Linked DNA regions of Homo sapiens: region 1 is linked to region 2. The links come from fine-mapping of genetic effects on gene expression. A gene starts in region 2. The other region holds a variant in brackets. All regions are shown on one strand. Distances are from middle to middle.

Region 1 (11,320 bases), 140 kb after region 2:
TGTACTTAGAATAAATTTAATAATCTTTTGCTCTGGAAACTATAAAACAGTGTTGAAAGAAATAAAAAAAAAAAACCTTTAATAAATAAATCCAGGCCAAGCCCAGTGGCTCATGCCTGTAATCCCAGCACTTTTGGATGCCAAAGCGGGAGGATCACTTGAGCCCAGGAGAGTTTGAGGACAGCCTGGGCAACATAGTGGGATCCTGCCCTACAAAAAAATTTAAAAATTAGCCAGGTGTGGTGATGTGTACCTGTGGTTCTAGCTACTTGGGAGGCTGAGGCAGGAGGACCACTTGAACTCAGAGGTCAAGGCTGCAGTGAGCCATGATCATGCCACTATACCTTAGCCTGGGTGACAGAGCAAGACCCTATCTCTATAAATAATAATTTTTAAAAATCAGAAAACTTAACTTAGTTTTTTGTTTGTTTCTGTTTTAAGAGACAAGGTCTTCCTCTGTTGCCCAGGCTGGGGTGCAGTGGTGCAATCATAGTTCAAGGTAACTTTGAACTCCTAAGCTCAAGCCATACTCCTGCCTTGGCCTCCCAAAGTGCTGAGATTCAGGTGTTAGCCACCATGTGCTGCCTCTACTTTCTTTTTAAAGGGTACAATGCCAGGTACAAATAGACAATAGTTGGAGGAAATACTGATTATTCAAAAAAAGAGAGGACAGAAGAAAATACTTCACAAGGGCTTTACATATATGTGCTTTAAAATTCCATCACTCTCCTTGCAATTCTATCAGTTTAAAAAAATAATGATAAAATAAAATTCCCTCATGCTGACTTCTACCACTGTGTTCCTCCATTTTGAAAGAAACCTAGACAAAGCTGGTCAAATCAGCACTTAATAGCTAAGAAGTATGGATCATCAAGGCAGGCAGTTCACACTACCACAGGGCTGCCTACCTCAACCACGCCCTGGGCTATCTCAACATCTATGTCATTGGCCTAACACCACAATATCACATTTTCTTTCTGAAATCCTGACTTCTCCCCTCAAGCAATAAACAGGTTCATCTAAGCTTAAAGCATAAAACAACATTTCCTTGGCACAAACCCCCATTCCCTTGAGCTGTCAGTTGATGCTCTTCGAAATATCTATATAGTTCAGTTGACCCTTGAATAACACAGGTTTGAACTGCACAGGTCCACTTGTACTTTCACTAGAAGTTACACCAAGTGTGCCTTCCTTTCCTTACCTCCCCTTCACCTCCTCCACTTCTGTCTCTACTATCACTGAGACAGCAAGACCAACCCCTCCTCTTCCTCCTCCTCCTGAGCCTACTCAACTAGAAGACGAAGATGAAGACATTTATGATTGATCCACTTATACTTAATGAACACTAAATATCATTTATCTTCCTTATAATTGTCTTAACAACATTTTCTTTTCTCTAACTTACTTTAAGAATATATTATAGTACATATAAAACATAAAATAAGTACCAACTGACCGTTTATGTTATCAGTAAGTCTTCCAGGCAACAGTAAGCTATTAGTAAAACGTTCTGGGGAGTAAAAAGTTATACTGGAATTTTTGACCGCATGGGGGTTGGTGTCTCTAACCCTCACATTGTTCAAGGGTCAATTGTACTTCACTCTATACTTCATCAATTACTAATTACTACCTGATCACTGAGATACGGCTTTTGCCCCTGTCATTCACATAAACAGACTTCCATATGACCAACTATGTTCTAACTGATATTCGGTGTAGATCAAAAACAATCTACATCTTACCTATCGGTAACAGACGATGTTGACTACCTGATTCCTTGAAACATCATCTATCTTTGCTTTCCAAACACTCCTTGCCTTGTTCTCCCATCCACTTGTCTTAATTGGCTTTCTTATTTTCTTTTGCTTCTTCCTGCTTTTTCACTACTGATGCACCTAAAGGTCCTGACATGGATCCTCTGCTCCTTCTTGGACCACCTCTCCTATTTCCTTAACTTCAATGGCCCCACTCTCCCACAACTTTATCTCCACCCCTAATCTCCCTCTATAATTCTACTAATGGTGCAGTTGACCTGTGTGAAGTGGGTTTCTACACCGTGACATGATGGGTATTTTTAAAGGCTTCATTAAGACATAATTCACACACTACGCAATTTACCCACTGAGTGTACAGCTCAATGGTTTTAGCATATTCACAGATGTGTGCAACCACGACCATGATCTAATCTGAGAACATTTCCATGGTACCAGAAAGACCCCATATGCTTTAGCAGTCACCTCCTACTTTGTTCCAATCACTCCAGTTCTAGGTAACCACTAACCTTTCTGTCTCTATAGATTTGCCCATCCTGGACATTTCATAAATATGTTATCATATAATTTGTGGTCTTTTGTGAATGGCTTTTTTCACTCAGTATGTTTTCAAAGTTTACACATGTTGTAGCATGTATCAGTAATTCATGTCTTTTTATGACAGGTAATATTCCCATTATATGGGTATACCACATTTTATTTATCCATTCATCAGCTGATGGACATTTGGGTTGTTTCTACTCATATAGTATTATGAATAGCCTATTCATATAGTACTGCTCTGAACATTCATGTACAAGTTTTTGTGTGGATGACTATTGATACTTTGGGCCCAATAATTGCTTGTGTGGGGCTGTCCCGTGCTTTGTAGGATGTTTAGGATGTTTAGCAGCATCCGTAGCCTCAACCCAATAGATGGCAGTAGCATTTCCCGAGTTGTGACAATCCAAATTGTCTCAAGACACCACCAAATGTCCCAAGTATACAAAATTGTTCCTAGTTGAGAATCAATGTTAAAGAGTTATGATTTGTTTTCTTTCTTCTCCTTTTTTTTTCTTTTTTAGAGACAGAGTCTCACTCTATCCCTCAGGCTAGAGGTAGAGTGCAATGGCGTAATCTCAGCTCACTGCCACCTCTGACCGCCGGGTTCAAGCACTTCTCCTGCCTCAGCCTCCCAAATAATTGGGTCTACAGGTGTGTGCCACCATGCCTGGCTAATTTTTTGTAAGAGATGGGGTGTATTGGTCCATTCTCAGGCTGTTGATAAACACATACCCGAGATTGAGCAATTTACAAAAGAAAGAGATTTAATTGGACTTACAGTTCCACGTGGCTGGGGACACACGGAACAATCATGGCAGAAGGCAAGGAAGAGCAAGTCCCGTCTTACATGGATGGCAGCAGGCAAAGAGAGAATGAGGAAGATGCAAAAGTGGAAACCCCTGATAAAACCATCAGATCTTGTGAGACTTATTCACTACCACGAGAACAGTATGGAGGAAACTGCCCCCATGACTTTATCTCCCACGGGGTCCCTCCCACAACACATGGGAATTATGGGAGTACAATTCAAGATGAGATTTGGGTGGGGACACAGAGTCAAACCACATCATGAGGTTTTGCCATGTTGCCCAGGCTAGTCTCAAACTCCTGAGCTCAAGCCATCCACCGGCCTTGGCCTCCCAAAGTACTGGGATTAAAAGCGTGAGCCACTGCGCCCAGCCAAGTTATGATTTCATTAATGAAACTTTGCATGAGCGTAAATCTTGACCTAAGAACACTGTAATACAAGCTATTAACTATGATAGCATTAATGCCCTTAAATATTAATATCTAAATATTTACTCTGCATTATTTTGTCAGTATCTCTCTATGCACATCCTACAGCCACTGCTCAGTCAGCTTCAGCTGGTTTTCCCAATATTTTACAGTCACAATTAATACAGTACTTTCTATAAGAAATTACATTTTGGGGCTGGGCGCAGTGGCTCACGCCTGTAATCCCAGCACTTTGGGAGGCTGAGATGGGTGGATCACGAGGTCAGGAGATCAAGACCATCCTGGCTAACAGGGTGAAACCCTGTTTCTACTAAAAATACAAAAAAATTAGCCAGGCGTGGTGGCGGGCACCTGTGGTCCCAGCTACTCAGGAGGCTGAGGCAGGAGAATGGCGTGAACCTGGGAGGTGGAGATTGTAGTGAGCCGAGATCATGCCACTGCACTCCAGCGTGGGCAACACAGCAAGACTCCATCTCAAAAAAAAAAAAAAAAAAAAGAAAGAAATTACATTTTGGTCTTGTTCTGTTGCCCAGGCTGGAGTGCAGTGGTGTGATGATAGATCACTGCAACTTCAAACTCCTGGCCTCAAGCAATCTTCCCACCTCGGCCTCCCAAAGAGAAATGAAACCCTAAGCCCACACAAAAATTATAAATGAATGCTCACAGCAGCATTGTTAATAATAATCAAAAAGTGGAAACAACCCAACTGTCCATCAACTGATAAATGGATTAAAAAAGTGGTATATCCATACAATATTATGGCAATGAAAAGGAATGAAGAACTGATGGATGCTGCATGCTACAAAATGGATGAATCTTGAAAACATTATGCTAAGTGAAAGAAGCAAGGATGGGTGCAGTGGATGACACCTGTAATCCCAGCACTTTGGGAGGTCGAGGCAGGCAGATCACTTGAGGACAGGAATTCGAGACCAGCCTGGGCAACATGGCGAAACTCCATCTCTACTAAAAAATACAAAACTAGCAGGGCGTAGTGGTGTGTGCCTATAGTCCCAGCTACTCAGGAGGCTGAGGCAGGAGAATCGCCTGCACCCAGAAGGCAGAGGTTGCAGTGAGCCGAGATCGCGCCACGGCACTCCACCTTGGGAAACAGAGTGAAACTCCGTCTCAAAAAGAAGCCAGTCACAAAGGACCACATATTATATGATTCCATTTATACGCTATGTCTAGAATAGGTAAATGCATAGACAGAAAGTGGTTGCTACGGACTGGGGAAGGTGGAAATGGAGACTAACTGCTAATTGACACAGGGCTTGTGTTTGGGATGATGAAAATGTTCTAAAACTACTGACAATTATTGCTGTACAACTCTATGAATATATTAAAAAACACTGAATTATACATTCTAAATGGGTATATAGTATAGTGTGTGAATTACATCTCAATAAAACTATTATTGAGACTGGGCATGGTGGCTCATGCCTGTAATGCCAGCACTTTGGGAGGCTGAAGGAGGAGAATCACTTGAAGCCAGGAGTTCGAGGCCAGCCTAGCCAACACAGCAAGACTCCATCTCCACAAAAATTAAAATAAAAAAATTAGTCAGGGCCAGGTATGGTGGCTCATGCCTGTAATCCCAACACTTTGGCAGGCCAAGGTGGGTGGATCAACCTGAGGTCAGGAGTTCAAGACCAGCCTGGACAACATGATAAAACCTGTCTCTACTAAAAATATAAAAATAAGCTGGGTGTGGTGGTGCACACCTATAATCCCAGCTACTTGGATGGCTGAGGCATGAGAATCGCTTGAACCCAGGAGGCAGAGGTTGCAGTGAACCAAGATAGTGTCACTGCACTCCAGCCTAGGCAACAGAGCAAGATTCTTTCTCAAAAATAAATAAATAAATAAAAATAAAATTATCTCAATATAAAATATAGATACAAAAAAGAAAGCAGATTAGAAAAAATTAATAAATGGGGGATTGTTACTGATAATTTAACACAGCCTCATTTAACATACCATTCTAAATTATCAAAATATTTAACACTAAATACACAAATTTTCCATGATTTATTATTTGTCTATCCTAAGAGACAAATCACCTTTTATTTTATTTTATTTTATTTTTATTTTGAGACAGGGTCTCTTCTGTCGCCCAGGGTGAGTGCAGTGGCATGATCATGGCTCACTGTAGCTTCAACCTTCCAGGCTCAAGCAATCCTCCTACCTCAGCCTCCCGAACAGCTGGGACTACAGGCACACACCACACACCTAGCTAATATTTGTATTTTTTTGTAGAGATAGGGTTGTGCTATGCTGCCCATGCTGGTCTCGAACTCCTAGACTCAAGCAATCCTCCCATGTCAACCTCCCAAAGTTCTGGGATTACAAGAGTGAGCCACCGCACCCAGCAGATAAACCATCTTTTAAAAGGCATCAATTCAACACTTTTAAACTAAGTTAAATTTGATTATTTAGACCCTCTCCATGGTACAAGGCTGCATAATTATTCCATTCTTTTCCTTACTGATTGAATGGTAGATCTCCAGGTAATTTCCAAAATTAGAAATTAGTCAGAATTGAGTTCCTTGAAATTGATTTCCCTAATGAGTGCTAAATCTGTAGCTTAGTTTAATCTCACTGCCAAGTTCTTTCTCCCACACTTAAAGCTAATCCACTCAAAGAATACTTAGCTGTAGTGCAGTCAGCCAACAAATGGCACTATATGAAAAGGTCACACAAGAACTCACTCATAAGCCATGAAGCAAAATATCCTCAAGTCAAAAACCAAGATATACTTTCTTTAAACAAGGAATTATTTCCTTTGGCAACACTGCAGTATTGCTT[AT/A]CATTTTCAGATGACAGATTTTCCAAAGCTTTATCTAAGTACTTTATAAAATATTTTATGTGTGTGTATCTTTTAGACAAGCTTTGTTTCCAAACTCCCAGAGAACTATTTCTTTTTATAAAATAGTCACTCTCTACCAACTGTATTTTCCCTTAAAACAGACACTTTAAAATATATGCAGTGTAACTTTTGTTGATTTTTCCCTACATATATAATTAATATTTTGATAGCTCCATATGGACTGCTAATTTTAAAATATGTCTCAAGGTTTTTCAATATCTTTTCTTTCCCCACTGAAAACACTGGAGCAAGAAGCTGAATCCAATCTCTCTCCCCAACTGCAAGATCCTGTTGTGGTGGTCCCCACATCTATCACCATTGGCTCCCCTGAATAAAGCCTGCCTTACCAACTTTATTTAAAAAAACAAACAAACAAAAAACCTAGAACAAAAATATTGAAACACTGAAAGGGGAAATTTTTTAAAAAGCAAACCTAAGCAAGTAGCCACCTCTTGACAACCAAAAAGAATTAAGTTAATATATTAAAGATAAAAAGTTGGTTATTGGGAGAAAGATGATTACAGAATAAGAATAAAAGGAAACAGTGACTGACCTTACTGTAAGCTTTGCCCCATAATGCAGCAGCTCAGTGACTGCTTTTGGGAAAGAAACCTGGAGAGCTCACGAGTCAGACTCACTTTACCTGACAGAGCCCTTCACAGTTAATATTCTACTACGTGAATAGACTAAGTTTAAATGGAAGAAGGAGTTATACCCCACCACACTCCTTTAAATGTCATAATTTTACCAGCCACAAATAATTAGCGAGTTTCTGTATATGTAAATGTAGCTCCTCTTGGCTCTTGTTACAATAAAAATGAGTCCCATACTAGATCTCTGATCTGATTTCACATCTATTTCCTGTCTGCTTATCATCAGTCTTTTTCTCCTGAACAGACTCTCAGATTAAAAACATCTAGAACAGGTCGCATTAAATTTCCTATACCACACAGAGGCGTATTAGTTCAACAAAGAAGAGTATAAAAGACAGTTAGTTATATAATGAACTATTTAATTCACGGAGGCTATTAAGAGCTCAATAAATAGTAACTAACTCCTGAGTGTTTTAAATGTATTGTTTCATTTAATTCACACAACAATCCATACCCCCATTTTACATTTGGAAAAGCTGAGACTCAGAGAGGTTCAGGTGATTTGCCTAAGATGAGCAGAGCCTTGAATCCAGATCTATTGGACTTTACACAACAAATGGGTAGTCACTGTATATTACTATCAACGGGCAGCAGATGTCCCAGCATAGTAAATGAGACAGCAGTTCCTTAAAGTTTATGAAATACAAATTTCTCTACTTTAAGTAACTAATTTAAAAAGCAGATATATGCATTGATAATACAACCCACTTAAACTTTTGAATAATTTCCTAAAAACAAAATTCTCATTTTTTTATACTGGTAAAGGCCCTTGAAGAGTAAACATATTACTAACTTATTACCTATACTTGAACAACATCACCATCCATAAAGATTAAATTAGAGCACTCCAAACTAGCTTTAAGTCAGTCAAAAAAATCAAACATAATTACTTGTCCAAGGAAAAAATGATTCGGTTTCTTAAAAGGTAATTTCTACCTGTTTCCTTTTCCTTCCCAAAGAATAATGCTAATCCTGAATTAGCAACAGCTCCGTCATCCACCACGTTTCTATGTATTCAAACTTCTTCTACAAAGGAGTAAATACTTTTAAATCTTCTAGTATTATCCTAGTATCCACTGTCTTTTGGCATTATAAAGAAATTAAATTCTATTTCTTAAAAAAAATCTTATTTTCTTTCAATATGTTTTATGAAAGCTGCAGAGGTGAAAGACTCCGAGCTGTAATTAAGTCACCTATGAAAATTACCACAGATAAACTATTCATTTGTTAAAAGGATATAATTTGGAGGAAGAAAGTTCCAGCTCAAGACTTGATTGGCGAGTGCAAGGTAACGCTGAAATACTGAAGACATCTGAGCATTGAGGTTTTCCCGCCTGCTGAACTCCTGCAGAACTTCAACAGTTAACATGAAGATCTGACGAAGGTCTTCTTCCTATAGTCAATAAATCACAAATATTTTATATGAAAAATTTATTCAAAATGTATCCCCTTTTAGAATCATGAAACAAAACAAACACCTTAAAATTTCCAATGGAAAACACCATTTCCTTAAGAACGTGTTCCATTTTTAGGCCTCTACTTGTAATTTACATCGCAGTATGCTTTCAAGTGACGCCAGATGGAATACTTTTACTTGAATATAAATGCTACTTCCATAGAGAAGAGAGTCTTTGACAACTACTGCGGAGCCAGAGGAGTCAGTTGCTATAGTGCAGAGCCCTAGGATTTAAGCCAATGCCTTCACATAACTTTACTCCAGAGCCAAACAATACATACAAGACAAAGAGCCCGCACCATCTGCAATAACATTTGAAATACACGGCCTTCTGGCATTCTTCCAGACCTATTTTTAAGGCCAGCAGAGTCCCTTCAATTGAATTAGTTATATCTAAACACAATAAGAAATAAATAATAAACTAAAGATCTTTATAGAAGTATTGTTTTTAAGACTAGAATTAAACAAGTAATTTTAAACCATCAACTACATTCACCAAACCTATCATTTTACTATATCCTTTGAAATCACAAAACAAATCCTGAAGTACAGGCTACCATTCAACTACATAAAATAAATATTCTCATGTCATTAGGAATAGATTGAGTAAAAAGTGAATGATCCAATAATTAAAACTCAAGAACAAAACTACCAATACCTGAAAAACTCTTTTGCAGTTACCATGGAATTCCATGCTCAATCCAATGTTGCTAGTTTTACTTGAACTTGAAAATTCACTCAATAGCGCAGTCAGAATAGAACAGGCCAGAGTTTGCTGTAATTATTTGATAAGAAATAATTGTGAGGCATTACTGTTTCAACGCTTTGTTTCAATGCATTTGTTCAAACATAATAGAACATTTTCTCCCTAACTTTAGATCTTCCACTGTATCTTTAGATCTTATAACAACTAGTCAGAAAATCAGATATGACAAAATAAATATTAGCTCTCCTTTCTAAGTGGTCTGGTCAGTGTTAATAGTACTTCCTCAAATGCAGTTATACAAATCCATCTAAGACTTGAACTCAGGACACACTGTTCCTACTCAATAGTGGAATTCAAATGATATTTAAAAATAATAAATGTTGAAGGTATTATTTTGTTTAATTCGCAGAACAACCTATATCCTCATTTTACATTTGAGAGAAGTGACCTGGAGTACTTATCTAAGGCCAGCTGAGATTTCAACCCATGTTTGACCCCGTTCTGTTTGTAAAATGCATTCCCAAATAGATGAAAAGTGAAACAGATTTTATAGTGTCCAAAATATTATAGCCAGGTAATACCCAAAAGTTTTTTAAATAGAAAAATGAAGATTTTTCTTCTCATTGGTTCTATCCAACAGGCTCCTAATATCAACTCATTGATTTTATTCCCAGACTAAAACAGTCAAGGTACAAAGGATGGAAAGAGGATACAAATTATTTTGGCAACTTTCCAGGAGTTAAACAGAAATATGCACACTACCTCTGAACAACCGAAAGATTAAAGTCAAGATGATACTATTTATGCAAGCTTATCCAACAGCTGAACACTGTCATACCCACCCACCAACTGCAACATCTCTGTTCAGAAATGCTTCTGATGTCAGTACCTTGACCTTACAGATACTTATCTTGGCAAATCTTAGCAAATAACTTAATGATATTAAATTCCTAAAAACTGGCAGGAAATATCTGTTGAAGGTGAGAGGTGACTGATGGTTCCATGAGTGACTAATAGACTATCTGTCCATTTTGTATATGTCTGAAATTTTTCTTTAAAAAATGTAAACATAGGCCGGACACAGTGGCTCATGCCTGTAATCCCAACACTTTGGGAGGCCGAGGCAGGCAATCACCTGAGGTCAGGAGTTCGAGACCAGCCTGGCCAACATGGTGAAACCCTGTCTCTACTAAAAATACAAAAAAATCAGCTAGGCATGATGGCAGGCACCTGTAGTCTCAGCTACTTGGGACACCAAGGCAGGAGAACGCTTGAACCTGGGAGCCGAAGGCTGCAATGAGCCGAGATCGCGCCACTACACTCCAGCCTGGGCAACAGAGTAAGACTAAGTCTCAAAGAAAAAAGAGTAAACATAAAGTTAAATTCCTATTTGCCTCTTAATCTCAACTAAAACAAGCGTGACTATATAGCTAATATTTATGAAAGGCACAAAACCCCATATGTTAAAGAAGTTTCTCAGACTTTTCCACACCTGGAAGTAAATGCAAATTCTCTAGCGAATCTAGGGGTATGATCAAAGATGCCTTCTGCAACAATAAAAGTTCTCTGAATGTTACTGGTTTGGCATAAACACACACATTTTGTAATTTTACTTCAAAATATACATGACTTAATATAAAAATGTCCCTTCCTCCCAAAATCTTCAAGAAACCCATTTAACTGCCTTTGTATGGCCCCAGGCACTTGGAGACAAAGAAGCCAGGCACTAAGGCCTCTCACAGAAAAAAACAGTTGATCACATATTTCTGTCATTTTACTGTTTAAAGCGATCTCAAAATTCAGGAAGTACAATCCCTTCATTTTTTTAGTTAACAAAATTGTTAATTTTCAAAAATTTTCTTTTAAAATGATTAATGATTATAGTGCCAGCAATTAACATTAGACAGATACATTTAAATAACATGAGGATCAACTATAAACATGATTTTTAAACACAGCTAGGCTTTGGTGGGGAAAGTAGATGTTAAATCAAATTAATGAGATTCAGAGAAAAAATTTAATTCACAATGATCTAATGATGAATCCCAAGATCCTAGGATCCTGAAAACAATTTTTCATTGACAC
Region 2 (17,108 bases):
TCAGTTGGCCAATCTTAAAATGTGGGGATTTTAAAGACCATCTTGTTCTGATTTATTCCCAGAGACATTATCAGTAAACTAAAAGACAAACTATATTCAAAAACGAAATGGTCAGTGTGTTTATCAGTGGACTACTCTCATTAAAAGTGAGGCTTACATAATAGAAAAAATATCACTCTAGGAATTCTAAGGGGAAGAAAGGAAAACTGTGGGGCTAGAGGAGTACTTTTAGAAAATATCACAGAAATTTCTGGTTAAAAAGTACTACTAACATTTCCTACTAATGTTAGTGTTCAGTTTTATCTGAAAATCCTCAGTGATACATATTACATTTTTTCCTAAGGCAGCCATTGCCTATTTGGGCAATTATAAGAGTCAGGGTGATCTCTTACTTTCTCTTAAGTTCTTCCATAAAATTGAAACCTATAAGTAAGCACACATTTGAAAGAATACATATACAGACTACTCTTAAGTGATGTTTTATCTATATTATAGATTCCCACAAGATATTTCTTTTAAATTTCAGAAAACAAGAATTATATCCCTAAGAAGCTGGCTTCCAAATTAAACAACCTGCTTGTTTCTTGGCAAATAAGTATGCTTTAAGATGCATAATGTAGTTTTATGTTTTCTCAACATATTAAACAAATGCATTTTTATTTTCGTGTTTTCAGATAGTGGCCAGAACTATAGTGCCAGTAGTAAAGGTGAACGACTAAGTGCCAGACTCAGAGCTTTACCTGGGACAAATGAACCTTATGAAAGTAGCAGTAACAAAGAAATAGGCAAGTACTCTCCACCCAGTTCCTCCAGGCATAGCAGGTCTGAAGAAGAATGGTGAGATGGCCAAAAGGTGTTGCTGGGAATTCTTAAGAATTTGATATTTACAGATAAAATTTAAAATGACTTGGGAGACCATTTCTGTTCACTCTGAGTTATTCATTTTGACTATGAGCCTGATTGGTTTCACATTTGTTTTGTTTGTTTACATAACTCTAACGTGACAATCTCTTCGAAACCTAGATGCCTCCTATGTGGACCCACTTGGCCCTCAAATAGAACGACCAAAAACTGCAGCCAAGAAAAGGATCGATGAGGATGATTTTGCTGATGAAGAATTAGGAGATGATTTGCTTCCAGAATAATATTCACTTTAATATTTATTAAAGGAAAGAAATTGCCTTATGAGATCATCCTCATGTTAAACCTTGGATTAAATATCTAACCTGTAATTATTTTTTTTCACTGTCAAAACTTAAGTAAGTGTATTCTATTCTGTATGTATGCATTTAAGTTGTTTTTTTCTTTTAAGGAATAAAAACAGGTAAAACTAATACTTTAGGCCAGTGACTTCCTTAGCTTTTTGAAAACATTGACACACAGGAAGAAATAAATTTCATAACACAACCTAGTACATATATGTGTATGTAGTCATAAAAATTTACCCTTATTATTGCAATACATGCTAATATTTTCTATAGTTTCATTCAAACAAAGTGCTAGTAGTGAAGCCACTACATTGATTTCATGGCTTGCAGATTGAAAAATGCTGTGTGGACATAGGCACAATTTCTATTCATACTTAAATTGCTTGGAGTTTGGAAATTCTTTGGAAGATTTGCCTTGTGGGGATTAGAAACACTATTAAAACAATTATGTTTTGGAAGCAGTATAAAGGGTAATGGGATTAAATACCAAACCATAACCCTAGTGCTCCTTTCCGAAGTTCCTTTCTACTTCAGCCCGGGGGTGTGCACCAATAGCACAGAGCAGTAACAACTCTAAGATGGCTTTTCCCATTTGTGACTTAGTGGGTTGGGGGCAGGACTGCCTGCATTTTTCTTTAACAATGTGTTTGGCTGGTCTAGAGTCTCCAGAGGAATTATAATGACGAGGATGTCAGAAGCAGTGGCTTATCTCTAACACTATACCAAAGAGAATGGACCCCTCAATCTTACTTACCATTGTCTCTGCAACGTGCATGCTACTGTTAGATGCGAGGGAGGAAAACCAAAACTAGACCACATTCCTTGCTCCCAAAGTAGGTTATGCTCTAATTGATGAGACAGCCAACAAATACAGTAAACATCCAGTATGTGCAGAGAATTCATTAAAATTTGGGGGATACAGTAGTGAAAAAGAACTATACCTTGCCCTCAAGAAGCTTAAATTCTGGTGGGGAGATGGAAAATATATTTTGTTTGTTTGTTTGGGTTTTTTTTGAGATGGAATCTCACTCTGTCGCCCAGGCTGGAGTGCAGTGGTGCAATGTTGGCTCACTGTAACGTCCACCTCCTGGTTTCAAGCAATGCTCCTGCCTCAGCCTCCTGAGTTGCTGGGATTACAGGCACGCACCACCACACCTGGCTAATTTTTGTATTTTTAGTCAGACGGGGTTTCACCATGTTGGCCAGGCTGGTCTCGAATTCTTGACCTCATGATCCACCCACCTTGGCCTCCCAGAGCTGGGATTACAGGCATGAGCCAGCGTGCCTGGCCAGAAAATATGTTTTTAAAGGACTCTAGATATTGTTAATTACAGTTAAGAGAACAAAATGGAGTAATGCAATAGGTAGTGATTATAGAGGAGGGACTCTAAGAGGTGGCCTTGGTAATAACACTAGAATGGTGAGAAGAAAGCAGTGTTCTGAGCAGAAGGAGCAGCAAGTGCCGCACACTGAAAAATGAATGATCTGGATGTGTCACAGGGTTATTGAGCTACAGTGATAGTGAGAGGGTTTGGGATCCAGCAGTGTGGGTGGTGTGCTACATGGGCAGGAAAGGGAAAGGAGATGAGATCCAAAAGGTAGGCAGGGTTCAGAGCATGTACAGCCTTATAAAGACAGTTTGGATCTTATTCTAGTTACTATAGAACACCTGCTAGAAGGTTTCATGCAAGGGGGGTGAGTGAAGTGCTTTCATTTAACCTTTAGAAACCAGTCATCACACTGGTCGCCATGAAGATGAAGTGGGCAAGTGGGATGGAAGGGAAGAGTGGAAACTACTAGCAGTAGCCTGGGTAAGAGATGAAAGCAATTGAGACAGGTTTTTAGCAATAGAAAATTGTGAGAAGTGGTCAGATTCAGCATATATTTGGAGGCAGAGCTGAGACTTACTAATGGATTGGATGTGGATTGTGAGGGAAAGAGAGGAAAAGATGATGCCAAAATTTGTGGCTAAGGAACGGAGTGGCTAGTGTTGTCTTTTTAGTAAGATAGATTTGGGGGGGAATAAGTAGATGTGTTTTACCCATGTTAAATTTGTCTCAAGCATTCAATTTGAGATGCGAAGAATGCAGTTAATCTTTAAAATCTGGAGGTCACAGAAGTGAGGGCTACAGGTAGAGATGTGGGATCCATCTATGTACACTTCGTACTTAAAACCATGAAACTGAATGAGATCAATTAGGTCTGAGAGTGAGGCTAGAGAAGAAGTATAAGCAATGTGCTTGTGAGTACCAGAGAAAAAGGATGGCTCAGCAGAAGAGACTGAGAAGAGCAACAAGTGATGTAGGAGGTTTCAGGATTCAAACTTCCAGTTCTGAGAAGGATGCAGTAGGTCATGGAAGCCCTCCGTAGCAGCTGGGAAAAAAAAACAAATCATTGCAAAAATCATGTCTTCAAAGTCTCTGGAGATCTGTGGAATCAATAAAACTAAAAATTGCAGAGAGGAAAGAGCCTTTTTTTTTTTTTTTTTTTTTTGAGACAGAGTCTTGCTCTGTCGCCCAGGCTGGAGTGCAGTGGCACAATCTCGGCTCACTGCAACCTCTGTCGCCCAGGCTGGAGTGCAGTGGCGTGATCTCGGCTCACTGCAACCTCTGCCTCCCAATTCTCTGGGTTCAAGCAATTCTCTGCCTCAGCCTCCCAAGTAGCTGGGATTACAGGTACCTGCCACCATGCCTGGCTAATATTTATATTTTTAGTAGAGACGGGGTTTCACCATCTTGGCCAGAGGGTGGACTTGAACTCCTGACCTCGTGATCTACCCGCCTCGGCCTCCCAAAGTGCTGGGATTACAGGCGTGAGCCACTGCGCCCAGCCCAAAAGAGCCATTTCTAAATGAACTGCTGATCCTGCCTGTTTTTCTGGAGACATTCACCAGTTCTAGGCATGGGCTAAGAACTGCACTTTCCTCAGGGAAAAGGCGTCATCTAGAGAAACTAACAGAGCTTTTAAGGTGGTCATTTGGGGTTGGCATGACAAACTGGAAACTTAGAGAAGCCCCAAATGTATGGCTGGCTTTCCACCATGGGGCATTTGCTGGAGTGCTGCTTCAGCTGGGGTAATGCTGGAGGCTAGGGAACTGGGATGGAGGTTTTAAGGGCTTAAATCTCCCATAGTTCTTAGGGGACGATGTCCTGCTAGGGGGAAAGGCTTTCCACAAGATATTTGCTATTTAGTCTACCCTCAAGATAATTGCTATTTTGGGGGCCGGGCATACTGGCTCACACCTGTAATCCCAGCACTTTGGGATGAGGCGGATGGATCACTTGAGGTCAGGGGTTTGAGACCAGCCTGGTCAATATGGCAAAAACCTGTCTCTACTAAAAATACAAAATTTAGCTGGGCATAGTGCTCGTTTGTAATTCCAGCTACTTGGGAGGCTGAGGCAGGAGAATCTCTTTAACACAGGAGGCAGGGGTTGCAGTGAGTCAAGACTGCGCCACTGCACTCCAGCCTGAGCAACAGAGCAAGACTCCGTCTTGAAGAAAAAAAAAAAAGATATTTGCTATTTTTTGAATCTGCATGGGGGCAGGAGGCTAACAATCTAAAGTCAAAACCTGGAGGGACCAACTTGACTCTTTTTCCATCTTTCTCAGCTGAGGAGACAAATCTAGGCTCCTAATCAAAAGCCTAGAAGGACAAACATGAATCAACGGTGGACTGACCCTTATACAAAAACTGCAGCCCAGGCTGGGTGAGGTGGCTCATGCCTGTAATCCCAGTGCTTCTGGAGGTTGAGGCAAGAGGATTGCTTGAGGCCAGGAGTTCAAGGCCAGCCTGGGCAACATAGTGAGACCCTGTCTCTACAAAAAATAAAAAAATTAGCCGGGGCATGGTGGCATGCACCTATAGTCCCCACTATTCGAGAGGCTGAGGCAGGAGGATCACTCGAGACCAGGACTTCAAGGTTACAGTGAGCTGTGATTGCACTCCAGCCTGGGCAACAGAAGGAGACCCTGCAACTCAACTCAATCCTTGACTGGATTGAAGTAATTAGTCCTGAATTCTCTCTGCCTAAGAGAGGAAAGAGGACCTTTCTATGGTAAGAATATCATTTGCAGTCTCTACGGTTCTTATATATACAATGCTTGGCATGTAATAAAATTACTGTGGCTGGGCGCAGTGGCTCATGCGTGTAATCCCAGGACTTTGGGAGGTCAAGGCGGGCAGATCACGAGGTCAGGAGATCAAGACCATCCTGACCAACATGGTGAAACCCCGTCTCTACTAAAAAATACAAAAAATTAGCCAGGCGTGATGGCAGGCACCGGTAGTCCCAGCTACTCGGGAGGCTGAGGCAGGAGAATGGCGTGAACCCAGGAGGTGGAGCTTGCAGTGAGCAGAGATCGCGCCACTGCACTCCAGCCTGGGCGACAGAGCGAGACTCTGTCTCAAGAAAAAAAAAATTACTAGAATGCAAGGAGTCAAGAAAATATGACCAGCAATCAAGAGAAAGTATAAATAGAAGCAGTCCTCTAGAAAATCCAGATAATGGATTTAACAAACAAGGACTTTGTGACTAGTGTGTTAAGTTAATAAAATGGATAAAAAGATGGAAAATTTCAATTGAATGTTGGAATCTGTGAAAAAGAGTCAAATAACTTAAAACTGAAAGACACAATATCTGAAATGAACTTACTTGGATGGATTGAACAATGTACCAGACACAGCAGATGTCAGGATTAGTGAGTAGGTCAATAGAAAAATATCCAAACTAAAGCAAAGAGAAATAAGACTGGCAAAATAAAGCAGCTGACAAGAGACACTTGGGACACAGTCAAGAGTTTAAATAATTATAATGGGAATCCCGGAAGGAGTGGAAGAGAGAATAGGGTAGAATTAACATTAGAAGAGATAATGTCTACAATCTCCCCAAATTGAAAAAGACATAAAGCCACAGATTTAGGAAGTTCAGTGAGCACCAAGGAGATACAAAGAAGACCACGCTGTGGTTACATTGTGCTCAAACTGCTAAAACCCACGACTTCCTTAAGATAAGCAGAATTACAAGGACACAGTACTTTCAGAGGAACATTAATAAGATTTATGGCTAACTTTTCAATAAAACTAAGGAACCAGAAGACAATAAAATGGTATCCTTAAGGTGCTGAAAAACAAATTAAAAGTCTGCCAACCTAGATTTATATTCCAGTGAATATATCCTATAAACTTTAAAGTTAAAGAGTTTTCAGGCCGGGCGCAGTGGCCCATGCCTGTAATCTCAGCACTTTGGGAGGCCGAGGAGGGTGGATCGCCTGAAGTCAGGAGTTCAAGACCAGCCTTGCCAACATGGTGAAACCCCGTCTCTACTAAAAAATACAAACATTAGCCAGGTGTGGTGGCAGGCACCTGTAATCCCAACTACTGAGGCAGGAGAATCACTTGAAGCTGGGAGGCGGAGGTTGCAGTGAGCTGAGACCGCACCACTGCACTGCAGCCTGGGCGACAGAGCAAGACTCCGTCTCAAAAAAAAAAAAAATTTTTCAGACAAATAAAATTTGAGAAAATTAATTACCAGAAGACTAGGTCCACAGAAAAAGTCCTACAGGCTAAAGGAAGATGATCCTAGAAAGAAGCATGAAATGACAGAAACTGATCACAAAGTTGAAAAATAATGAAAAGCACCAGAAAGGTATGGGGATATATAAAAGAAAGAATATTCACTATTTAAAACAACAATAATAATGCCTTGTGGAATTTTAAGATACATAGAAATAAAATAATGACAATACTAGTCCAAAGATTGGGACTGGGTATTAAATGAAGTTTCTTATATCATTCAGACAGTGCTAGACCATAATGAGGAGTATTTTGCAGAATGTACAATTAAAAGAGTAATGGTACAACTAATGAATATGGAAAGAATGATAAAATCAGCCAGGTGCAGTGGCTCATGCCTGTAATCCCAGCACATTGAGAGGCCGAGGCAGAAGGATTGCTTGAAGGCAGGAGTTTGAGACCAGCCTGGGCAACAAAGCAAGACACTGTCTCTACAAAAAATTAAAAAATAAGCCAGGCACAGTGGCAAGTGCCTATGGTCCCAGCTATTTAGGAGGCTGAGGTGGGAGGATCACTTGAGCCCAAGAGTTTGAGGCTACAGTGAGCTATGATGGCACCACTGTACTCCAGTCTGAGTGGCAGAGCGTGACACTATCTCTAAAAATAAATAGATAAATAATAACTAATAGATAAATAAATAAAATGAAAATCACCACTTTGCAACCACCACAAAATTAATCCAAGCAAGAATCATCACCGATTGCTAAAGCAAGTGAAGGAAAGTTTGATGAGAATAGCGTATTTACATAGCCCCAAAGTTTTCCCCCATGAATTACTTATTAATTATAAGAGGAAGAAAAATTTTATACTGGAGAAACCTGGTGCTACCTTAATCATGACCAAAGTGAACACAGCCAATAATGGGATGAATAAAATCCTTATGCCCCTGATGTGAGACACTGAAAAGATATGAGATTACGTAGCCAATATTCCTGCCAAAAAAACTAACCTGAACCGAATCATGAAGAAATACCATAAACTGAAGAACATTTGACAAAATAACTAGCCTCTACTTTTCAAAAATGTCAAGGCCATGAAAGACAAAAAAATGTCTGAGGAACTGTTCCAGATTAAGGAAGACTAAAGCAGGCTGGGTTCAGTGACTCACACCTGTAATCTCAGGATTTTGGGAGGCCAAGGCGGCTGGATCGCTTGAGGATAGGAGTTCAAGACCAGCCTGGCCAACATAGCGGGAACCCCCATCTCTACTAAAAATACAAAAAATTAGCTGGGCCTGGTGGTGCATGCCTGTAGTGCCAGCTTCTTGGGAGGCTGAAGAACGAGAATCAGTTTAATCCAGGAGGTGGAGATTGCAATGAGCCAAGATTGCACCACTGCACTCCAGCCTGGGCAACAGAGTGAGACTCTGTCAAAAAAACAAAAAAGGAAGGAAGGAAGGAGGGAGGGAGGGAGGGAAGGACGGAAGGAGGGAAGGAAGGAAGGAAGGAAGGAGAGAAGAGAGAAAGAGAGAAAGAAGGAAGGAAGGAAGGGGGGAGGGGAGGGAAGAGGAGGGGACGGAAGGGGAGAGAAGGGGAGGGGAGGGGAGAGGAAGGAAGACTAAAGAGACATGTCAACAAAATGTAATGCATGATCCTTGATGAGATCCTGGACTGGGGGAATTTTGCTTTAAGGGACATTAAAGAGACAGCTGGTGAAATGGGAATAGGAATGTACAGATGCTCCTCAACTTATGATGGGGCTGTGTCCTGATAAACCCATTGTTAAAAAACACCACACGTTGAAAATACATTTATTACTCTGTTATACCAGTCATAAAGATGAAAAATCATAGCTTGAACTATCATTAAATCCAGATGCTCCTCGACTTACCATAGGGTTATGTCCCAATAAGCCTATCACAAAGTCGAACAATCATAATTGAACAATCATAAGCTGGAGACCATCTACATTAGATAAGTATTTGTAAAATGTCTTAATTTTTAGAATTGCACTACGGTTACATAAGTGAATGTCTTTGTTCCTGAGAAATACACACTGAGGTGCTGTGGGACAAAGGGTCCTGATTTCTGCAACTCGATGGCTCAGTGGTCCAGAAGAAAGCACAGTGAAAAAGCAATGTGGAGAAATGTGAACAAATAGTGGAACTGAGTGAAGGGTATGTGGAGTTCCTTCATATTCTTCTTACAACTTTTCTATAAGTCTGAAATTATTTCAAAATAAAAGTTTTTTTTAAAGCTAATGTAGCTGGGTGTGGTGGTGTACACCTGTAGTCCTAGCTACTCAAGAAGCTGAGGCAGGATGATGGCTTGAGTCCAGGGGCTCCAGGTTATAGTGGGCTATGATAGCACCACTGCACTCCAGCCTTGGTGACAGAGCAAGACCCCGTGCCTAAAAATAATAAATAAAAATAAAAAAGCTAATGGAGGACAAAATGTAATGATGAAAAATACTTGATTAATGCAAAGAAAGGCAGGTAAAGGAGAAATAAAGGAATAAAGAGCAGATGAACAAAGAGAAAACAAGCAACAAGACAGGACTTAAACCTATTTATATTAGTAATTACGTTACATTAGTAATTATAAAAATGCAAACTCAATTACATTAATAATTAGTAAATGCTAGTTATGTTTAAAAATACAGCAAATGTAAATAGAATATTCCAGTTAAGTGACAAAGATTATCAGACTATTAAAAAACAAGACTCAACTATATGTTACTTACAAGAGACACATTTTAAATGCAGTCCTGCACCACATGACATCATTTCAGTCAAAAACAGACCACATATATGATGGTGGCCCCATACGATTATAATACCAAATTTTTACTGTACCTTTTCTATATTTAGATACACAAATACTTACTATTGTGTTACAATTGCCTACATTATGCAGTACAGTAACATGCTGTACAAGTTTGTAGCCTAGATGTGTTGTAGCCTAAACTACACCCCACAGAGCCGAGTTGTATAGTAGGCTATACTCAGTTTAAATACAACCTAGGGTGTTCACACAGCAACGAAATCACCTTACATTTCTCAGAATGCATCCCTGTTGGTAAAAGACATGTGACTGTCTAAAGGCACAGATAGGTTGAAAAAGAAAGGATAGAAAAAGAATGCTCATCAAGGCCGGACGTGGTGACTCACTCCTGTAATCCCAGCACTTTGGGAGGCCAAGGCCGGTGGATCGCCTGAGGTCAGGAGTTTGAGACCAGCCCAGTCAACATGGTGAAACCCTCCCTGTCTCTACTAAAAATTCAAAAATTAGCCCAGCATGGTGGCACGTGTCTATATTCCCAGTTACTCGAGAGGCTGAGGCAGGAGAATAGCTTTAACCCGGGAGGCAGGGGTTGCAGTGAGCCGAGATCACACCACTGCACTCCAGCCTGGGCAATGAGTTAAACTTCACCTCAAAAATAAAACAAAATAAAAATTCAGAACCTTTGCTGTAAAGGGGAGTCAAGTGGGACCTGGGGTCAAGAAAGGGTTTATCAAATGCATCAGGAAAGAAGGTGGGAGACATCAGACTGGGTGGGAGTAAGTCAGTGCATTTGCTGGTTGGAAGAAATGTAAAAGCTCTCATCTGTGGTCTGTGGAAGGTGTGAGGAACGAATTGGGCAGTAGAGACTTGAGGAAAGAGAATATGTAGATTAGTGATACTGGAAGAAGACCATAACTGCAGAGGTGTAATACGATACTTATGTTGAATGTTAATCTGAGATTTGTGGTCATAACTCAGAACTGAGTCTACTCAGCTCAGTTGTATGATTTTTAAGAGTTGGGATTCTAGGCAATTACAACAGAGAAAAAAGGAGAAAGGGATTAAGGGTGTTTGCAAGGGCGTGGCGACAGTGTCGAACTGTGAATCTAAACTAGACAAGAAAGGACATAAGGACTCAAGGGTGGAACGGTTAGTGAGAAGTGGGAGAAGGCTGGATGACGGCAGAAAACTGCAGGAGTGGGCGAAAACAGAAGGCACCTATGTCAAGGAATAGGATATTTGAAATCAGATGTTTGGCTGTATTGCAGTTATTGGTGATGACGAAACCTTGGATATGACCCTATGACTTGACAGTTGAGATGAGATGGGAAATAAAGACAATTGGGGCTAACGTAGTCACTTGGAAATCAGCATGTTAAATTGTCTCTGTGGAGGTTAAGGTGCCAGGAATGATCAGCAGGAATAGTGGTAGACCCAGGTGCTAAAATCAGTGAATCAAGGGAGTGACCAGCAAGGTGACAGCAATGAGAGCGCTATCAGTAGGAACATCCAAGCACAGTTTTTTTTTTTTTTTTTTTTTGAGACGAAGTCTAGCTCTGTTGCCCAGGCTGGAGTGCAGTGGTGCAATCTCGGCTCAATGCAACCTCCACCTCCCGGGTCCAAGCGATTCTTCTGCCTCAGCCTCCTGAGTAGCTGGGATTACAGGCATGCGCTACCACACCCGGCTTTTTGTATTTTTTTTTAGTAGAGACCCGGTTTCACCATGTTGGGCGGGCTGATCTCGAACTCCTGACCTCGTTATCCGCCCGCCTAAGCCTCCCAAAGTGCTGGGATTACAGGCGTGAGCCACCATGCCCGGCCTCAAGGACAGCTCTTTAAGGAAGAGAAAGAGGTTTGGGTAGATACGAACATCAGTAACCCAAGATTATTAGTATGGAAGGAGCCAACCACACACCGGCTTTTGGAGTTACGGTGCCTAAGGATGATTTAAAAGATTTTCCCCAACAGCTTGCCCCATGCTAAGCAGTCTTGCAGCTGTGCTGGTATTGGGTGTGCTGAGTAAACCAGGGGATGAGGGACTGGAGAGGCTTCAAATGAAGCTTGCGTGGCCACATTACAGATATGTTGGTTTTAAGGGAACACGATGAGCCTGCTTTTGAGTATGTTGTTCCCTTTTTTTCACTTGTATGTCTTAGGTTTGAACTTACTAACATGCTTATTTTGCATCTTCACAAATATGTTGAAATTTGAGGGGAACTCATAAACATTTGCACCTATTTATGACTCTCAACTGATTAGTCTCACAAATATCAAATTTGTTCTGCCAAATAGGTGAGCATTTTCAGTCATTTGTGATCTTTCACAAAATGAAAACTGCTGGAAAGTAAATATTTTCCTTCCCACTTCCAAGGTAATCCGGGGGGGTGGTGAGGAAGAGAGAAGCTGCCATGTTACCAGACAGTGGAAAATACTTTGTTGAATAACATACAGAACTAAGTCTGGTACCATGTCACCTCATATAGGAATGGATGCTGAAATGAGACAGACTGAGTATTTCTATGAAACCCTCATAATGATACTCTCTTAAAAGCCTCCCACGCTTCCTTTTTTCCAATAAAAAATAAGCAGTATTTGAGTACTGAAACCTTTATTCCCATTTTACTGGAAACAAAGAACATGAACAATTTACTAGTCAGAAAAAAAGTGTTTTATAACCCAAAACAAATATTTGCCAAGAGCTGTAAATTGCTTAAATCGCTTAAACTGGAGATTTCAGTGAGATTTTTAGCAGTAGATTACTAAGCTCCTTAGTTATAGAACATTCAATGCATAGGAAAGTGTTTTTCCTACAAAGCATAACTGAAATGTAGTTTAACTAATGGTTTACAATTCAGTCAAATACCAAAGCTGCAAACCATTTAGGGAGTCATCAATTACATATTTTGTACACTTTCAAAAAGCTTACAGCTGGGATGGGTTGTTTATTTTCAAAGCATGACTGCTTTAAAATGATCATATTCTTTAGCCTGCCACCTAGGAAGCATTAAGCATTTACTTGCAGAATGAACAAACGAGCACGTTGTCTTGTGTTATGAAGTATATAATATAGTTCGTTTTAGTTTCTTCATTCGCAGACTATCAGGCTCATTTCACGTGACTGCTTGCACTTAGAACTGAGTTATCACGGAGTAGGAACTCTCCAACATCGTCGTCATAGACCAAGAGATGCCCATGAACAGCCATGAAAGTGCCAGTCAGGGAAGTATTCAGTGCTTTGTTGTAGAGTTGTTGGATAGAGGCACAGGATCATTTCATGTTGTTGAGGAGAAAGGAGCAACAGCCTCCTCCCACCTTATTAAAAATAGAGATTTAAAAAAACCTCTAATTTCCTCGAAGTACAGAATCTCAAGAGGTAGCTCTAAGGAGAATCCCTCTGGGTTTGAGCGCATTCCTCTTCCAGGGGGCCTATTCTTGGACTGCTTTCCTTAATAGAGAAATCTCTCTGAGCCAAAATCGGCCTCCCCCAATTCCATCCTGTCGGCCCCACTTTTCTGCTTCGGAGACTTCCAAGCCAGTCCCCACTCCTCCTTCAGCCAGTCGGGCCCGCACCCGCGCCCGGCAGGGCCAGCCCTCTCCTCCTCCTGCGTGGCGCAGCACAGGCCCTGAGCGCGCGACCCCAGGCCCTGGGCGCCCCGCCGCATGCTCGCGGCTGGAAGCCCCAGTTTGCGTGGCCCTTCGGGTTATTCCGCTCAAGAGCCGCCGCGTCGCCCCATCTCGGCGCGAATCTGAAAGCGCTTTCGGGGGAGAAGATGTTGGGGGCACTGGTGAGTACACTGCACAAGTGACAAAATGTTTTCAGCTCCTGGAGGCGAAAGGTGCAGAGTCGCTCTGTGTCCGTGAGGCCGGGCGGCGACCTCGCTCAGTCGGCTTCTCGGTCCGAGTCCCCGGGTACGAGGAAAGACCACAGGGGGCTTCTCGCGGAAAAGCGGGCCGCGGACCCTGCGCGGGCTGGCTGGGGCGGGCGGATGACGAGGCGCAGGGGCAAGGGTGGGTCTGCGAGGCGGCGGGTCCGGGCGTCTTAGGCTCCGGGGCTCCCTCGCTGGCGGCGGAGCAGGGATGGCGCGCCCGGGGGTGAGGGTGCGGCGGGTCACAAGCACTCGCAGCCCGCGGCGCAGCAACCCGGCAGGCACACGCACACGTGCACGCGCGCCCCGCACCCGCCCCCCGTGCGGCCCCCGGCTCGGGGCGGCGGCGGCGGCGGGGGCCGGGGGCGCGCGGGCCGGCGCCGGGCTGGGCCCCGGGGACCCCGCGGGCGGCGGGCAGGCGGGGAGGGCGCTCTGGGGCCCGCCCGCGCGGCTCCCATCCTCCGGGCCGGCCTCTGGCTCCGCGGGGCGAGGGGAGGCGCCCGCCGGCTCCGGGCGCCGCGGGCGGGACACGGGCGCGGGGCGCAGGCGGGCTCCTCCGGCGCGTGCGGACGCTGAGCGTGGCCTGTCCCTCAGGTCTGGATGCTGGTAGCCGGCTTCCTGCTGGCGCTGCCGCCGAGCTGGGCCGCGGGCGCCCCGAGGGCGGGCAGGCGCCCCGCGCGGCCGCGGGGCTGCGCGGACCGGCCGGAGGAGCTACTGGAGCAGCTGTACGGGCGCCTGGCGGCCGGCGTGCTCAGTGCCTTCCACCACACGCTGCAGCTGGGGCCGCGTGAGCAGGCGCGCAACGCGAGCTGCCCGGCAGGGGGCAGGCCCGCCGACCGCCGCTTCCGGCCGCCCACCAACCTGCGCAGCGTGTCGCCCTGGGCCTACAGGTGAGCCGCGGGCGCGTCCTGGCGGGGCCCGGCAGGTGGGGAGGGCAGGGCTGGGCGGGGAGAGTGGGTGGGGCCGGGCCGAGGCCGGGCAGGCGGGGAGGGTGGGGCGGGGAAGGGGAGGTGGTTGGGGCGGGGCGACGCGGAGGGGGCGTGGCACGCGGGGCGAGGCGGAGCAGGTAGGGGTGGGGTGGTGCGGGGCGAGACAGGGTAGGGTACGGTAGGGTGGGGTGGGGTGCGAGGGGCGCTGCGATGAGGCGGGGTGGGGCGGGGCAGTTGGAGCACTGGGGGGCAATTCCTAAACTGCGAAGGCCCACCCCCACCACCTCCCTTGAAGGAGTCCTGCTTCCTCTCTTTACCCTCCAGTATTTCCTATGCAACACGTATCTCTTGAACACCTCATCTCCTCCAGGTTGGATGGGTCCGCAAGGCACTAGCTGGGGACCCTTCCGTGATGTGGACACAGTGATGTGGACCGTACTCTGCACAGGGGGCCCGGGGAGGTGCTGCTGGGGGGTGCGCGGTACTATCCACATATTTCCTGAGTGCCCCTGTGGTCCAGAGGCTGCTGGAGTGGAGCCCTGGGAAGCGCCCTCTGAGCCCCTCTAGTTTAATAGCCTAAGGAAGGAGTGGGGATAATTGGGAAAGAAACCACACCATCAGGCAGTGCATGAAGTGACATGAACAGTTTCGAGAGTATTTTGGTCTTGGAACAGAGGTCATTTCAGAAGAAAGGGACAGCCTGCAGAAGGGGAAGGCTGGAGAAGTTGGGGGCGTGTAGGCAGGGTGCCGCAGTGTCCTCAGCAGGCACCTGTGACCGTCTTCCCTCTAGCTGGAGCAGGAGGAGCTGCCCTAGGGGGCAAGGCCTCCCAGGGCCACAGAGGTCAAGAAAGGCTTCGTGAAAGAGCTGAGTCTTGATGGAGGAGAGCAAGTCGCCTACAAAGGCAGTGCTGAGGGAAGGGACAGCTGATAGCAAGCGGGAACAAAGCGCTTGGAAAATGGGGAGAGCCACAAGGCGAGCGGGGGCGGTGGGGGTGGGGGGGCGTAGGCGAGGTGTTTGCCTGTGGGGTGGGCATCGATGTAAGGCTGGAGACAGGTGCAGGAGCTGGATCCCCGCCTTGTCAGCAGTGCAGAGCTTCACCCTCACGCCTGGAATCCCAGCACTTTGGGAGGCCGAGGCAGGAGGATTTAAGTCCAGGAGTTCGAGACCAGCCTGGGAAACATAGCGAGATCCCATTTCTGCAAACAATTTTTAAGGATTAGCGAAGTGTGGTGGCACGTGCCTGTGGTCCCAGCTACTCCAGAGGCTTAAGTGGGAGGATAGATTGAGCCCGGGAGGTTCAGGCTGCAGTGAGCTGTGGTGGCGCCACTGCCTTCCAACCTGCGTGACAAAGCGAGACCCCGTCTCTAAAATAAAAATTAAAGAGAAAAAAAGTCTTGACACTTGAGATGGAGGAAGCCATACAGCCACTCTGGTTTAGGAGGGTGTCCCAATGGGGCATGGATTGGACAATGCTCTCCAGCACTTCCATCCAAAGGATCTAGGGCTTCACTCAGGCAGCGCGGTGGGAAGGGGAGACTAGGATCAGCGTGAAAGATGCTCATTAAAGAAGACAAGTGCTGTGGAGAGTCAGAGGAAATGTGATGATTTTGTCTAAAACGCATCTGGGCTTTCCTGGAGCCTCTCCCTGCCGGCTGCTGGGTAGGGAGATTTCCTTTTACTCAACAACACACAGGACCCCTATGCTGTCCTGGGAAGCCAAGTTTTAGGGCCTCCTGCCTCCTGGCTACTCTGCAGAGGACCAAGCTCACTGTGGCAGAGCCCCCTCAGAGCCCCTGCCCACGGGGAAGTTGGGTGGGACCCCTCCCGCCCTTCTCACTCCTGTCCTTCAGCTGGAGCCTGCAGGGCACACACATGGCGCCATTCATTCTGGTATCTTGGTGCTCTTGCTTTTCCTCTCTCTTCCTCCATTTCCAGGACCTGAAGGGATGGACTACGGCATTCTTCTTTCTCTAACCTCGTGTTATGCTTCTGATATACCAAATAGGATTAAAGCCACATAAGGAATCTCTCAGAACCAGAGATTAACTTCTCTGGACAGAAGCTGCTGGCCCTGCTTTCTATAGCAGATTCGAACTCTCAGGCAAACCCGTGGCTCCCCACAGGCTGGGCCAAGGGCCTAAGAGTAGTATATAGCCTCCCAAAGGCATGTCTCTCATGTTTCTGGCTTGGGTTGTTGATGGTATTTGAGCAAAATGAGAAAATACACTTAGGAACAAGTGTTGTGGGAGGAAATAATGAATTTAGTAACAAGCCTGTTGAGTTTTGCCTGCCTGAAAGGCGTACAGGTGACAATGACTGGTTGGAGCTCAGGAGACAGAGCAGGGCTGGAGGACACATGGAGAGTTAGCAGCACTGGCATTCTGTGTGTGGGAAGTTAAATTGAGTTGCCCTTGCTACAGATGACACCTATGTCGCCCCAGGCAGGATCTGGGAGCCGAGGGAGGTTATGGATGAGAATGACACACAGGGTTCGGGGATCGTGGTCTGGGCCACCCAGATCTGCCCACATGTGGAACCTCAGTGCTGGGTGGTCCCAGGAGCAGGAGTGGCAGCTGCAGCAGGGTGGCTGAAGGTGTCATGTGCATCATTTTTCATATTATTTAGCAACAGTGATGAGATCACTCCCCATGGGCAAACGGAGGTGGGTGGCTTATATTTGCTGAAGGAAGGACAGTCTTCAGGGGATGGCTGCTGGGCTGGGACTCCAGATTGCTGACTGCCAAAGCTGCTCCTGCATTTTCCTGCCAGGAGAGCCCTCTCTGCCCTCCTCCCTCCAATCACCTCTC

Direction of the effects. Alleles are on the strand shown, and positions count from the first base shown. SD is a standard deviation of normalised expression in the study named.
For the expression in esophagus muscle of the gene that starts at base 13,669 in region 2, AT is the low allele of the variant in region 1 and A is the other (moderate effect, 0.71 SD a copy in GTEx).

The links.
Region 1: its variant is fine-mapped to the expression of IL17D in esophagus muscle (GTEx, PIP 0.99).

The regions. Positions count from the first base shown.
Region 1 is chr13:20,834,583-20,845,902 of GRCh38, forward strand. XPO4 (exportin 4) reads right to left here. Exons shown (of 23, transcript NM_022459.5): 5 at 9,188-9,304; 6 at 8,313-8,466. Among named protein-coding and RNA genes, the nearest start is that of XPO4, 63 kb to the right of the region's middle. The variant AT/A (reference allele first, on the strand shown) is at 6,360.
Region 2 is chr13:20,690,031-20,707,138 of GRCh38, forward strand. IL17D (interleukin 17D) reads left to right here and starts at 13,669. Exons shown (of 2, transcript NM_001385224.1): 1 at 13,669-14,261. The coding sequence starts at 13,972. It overlaps IFT88 (intraflagellar transport 88), which reads left to right. Exons shown (of 26, transcript NM_006531.5): 25 at 675-785; 26 at 1,024-1,414. The coding sequence ends at 1,145. RefSeq lists silencers at 13,051-13,130, 13,551-13,690, 13,981-14,490.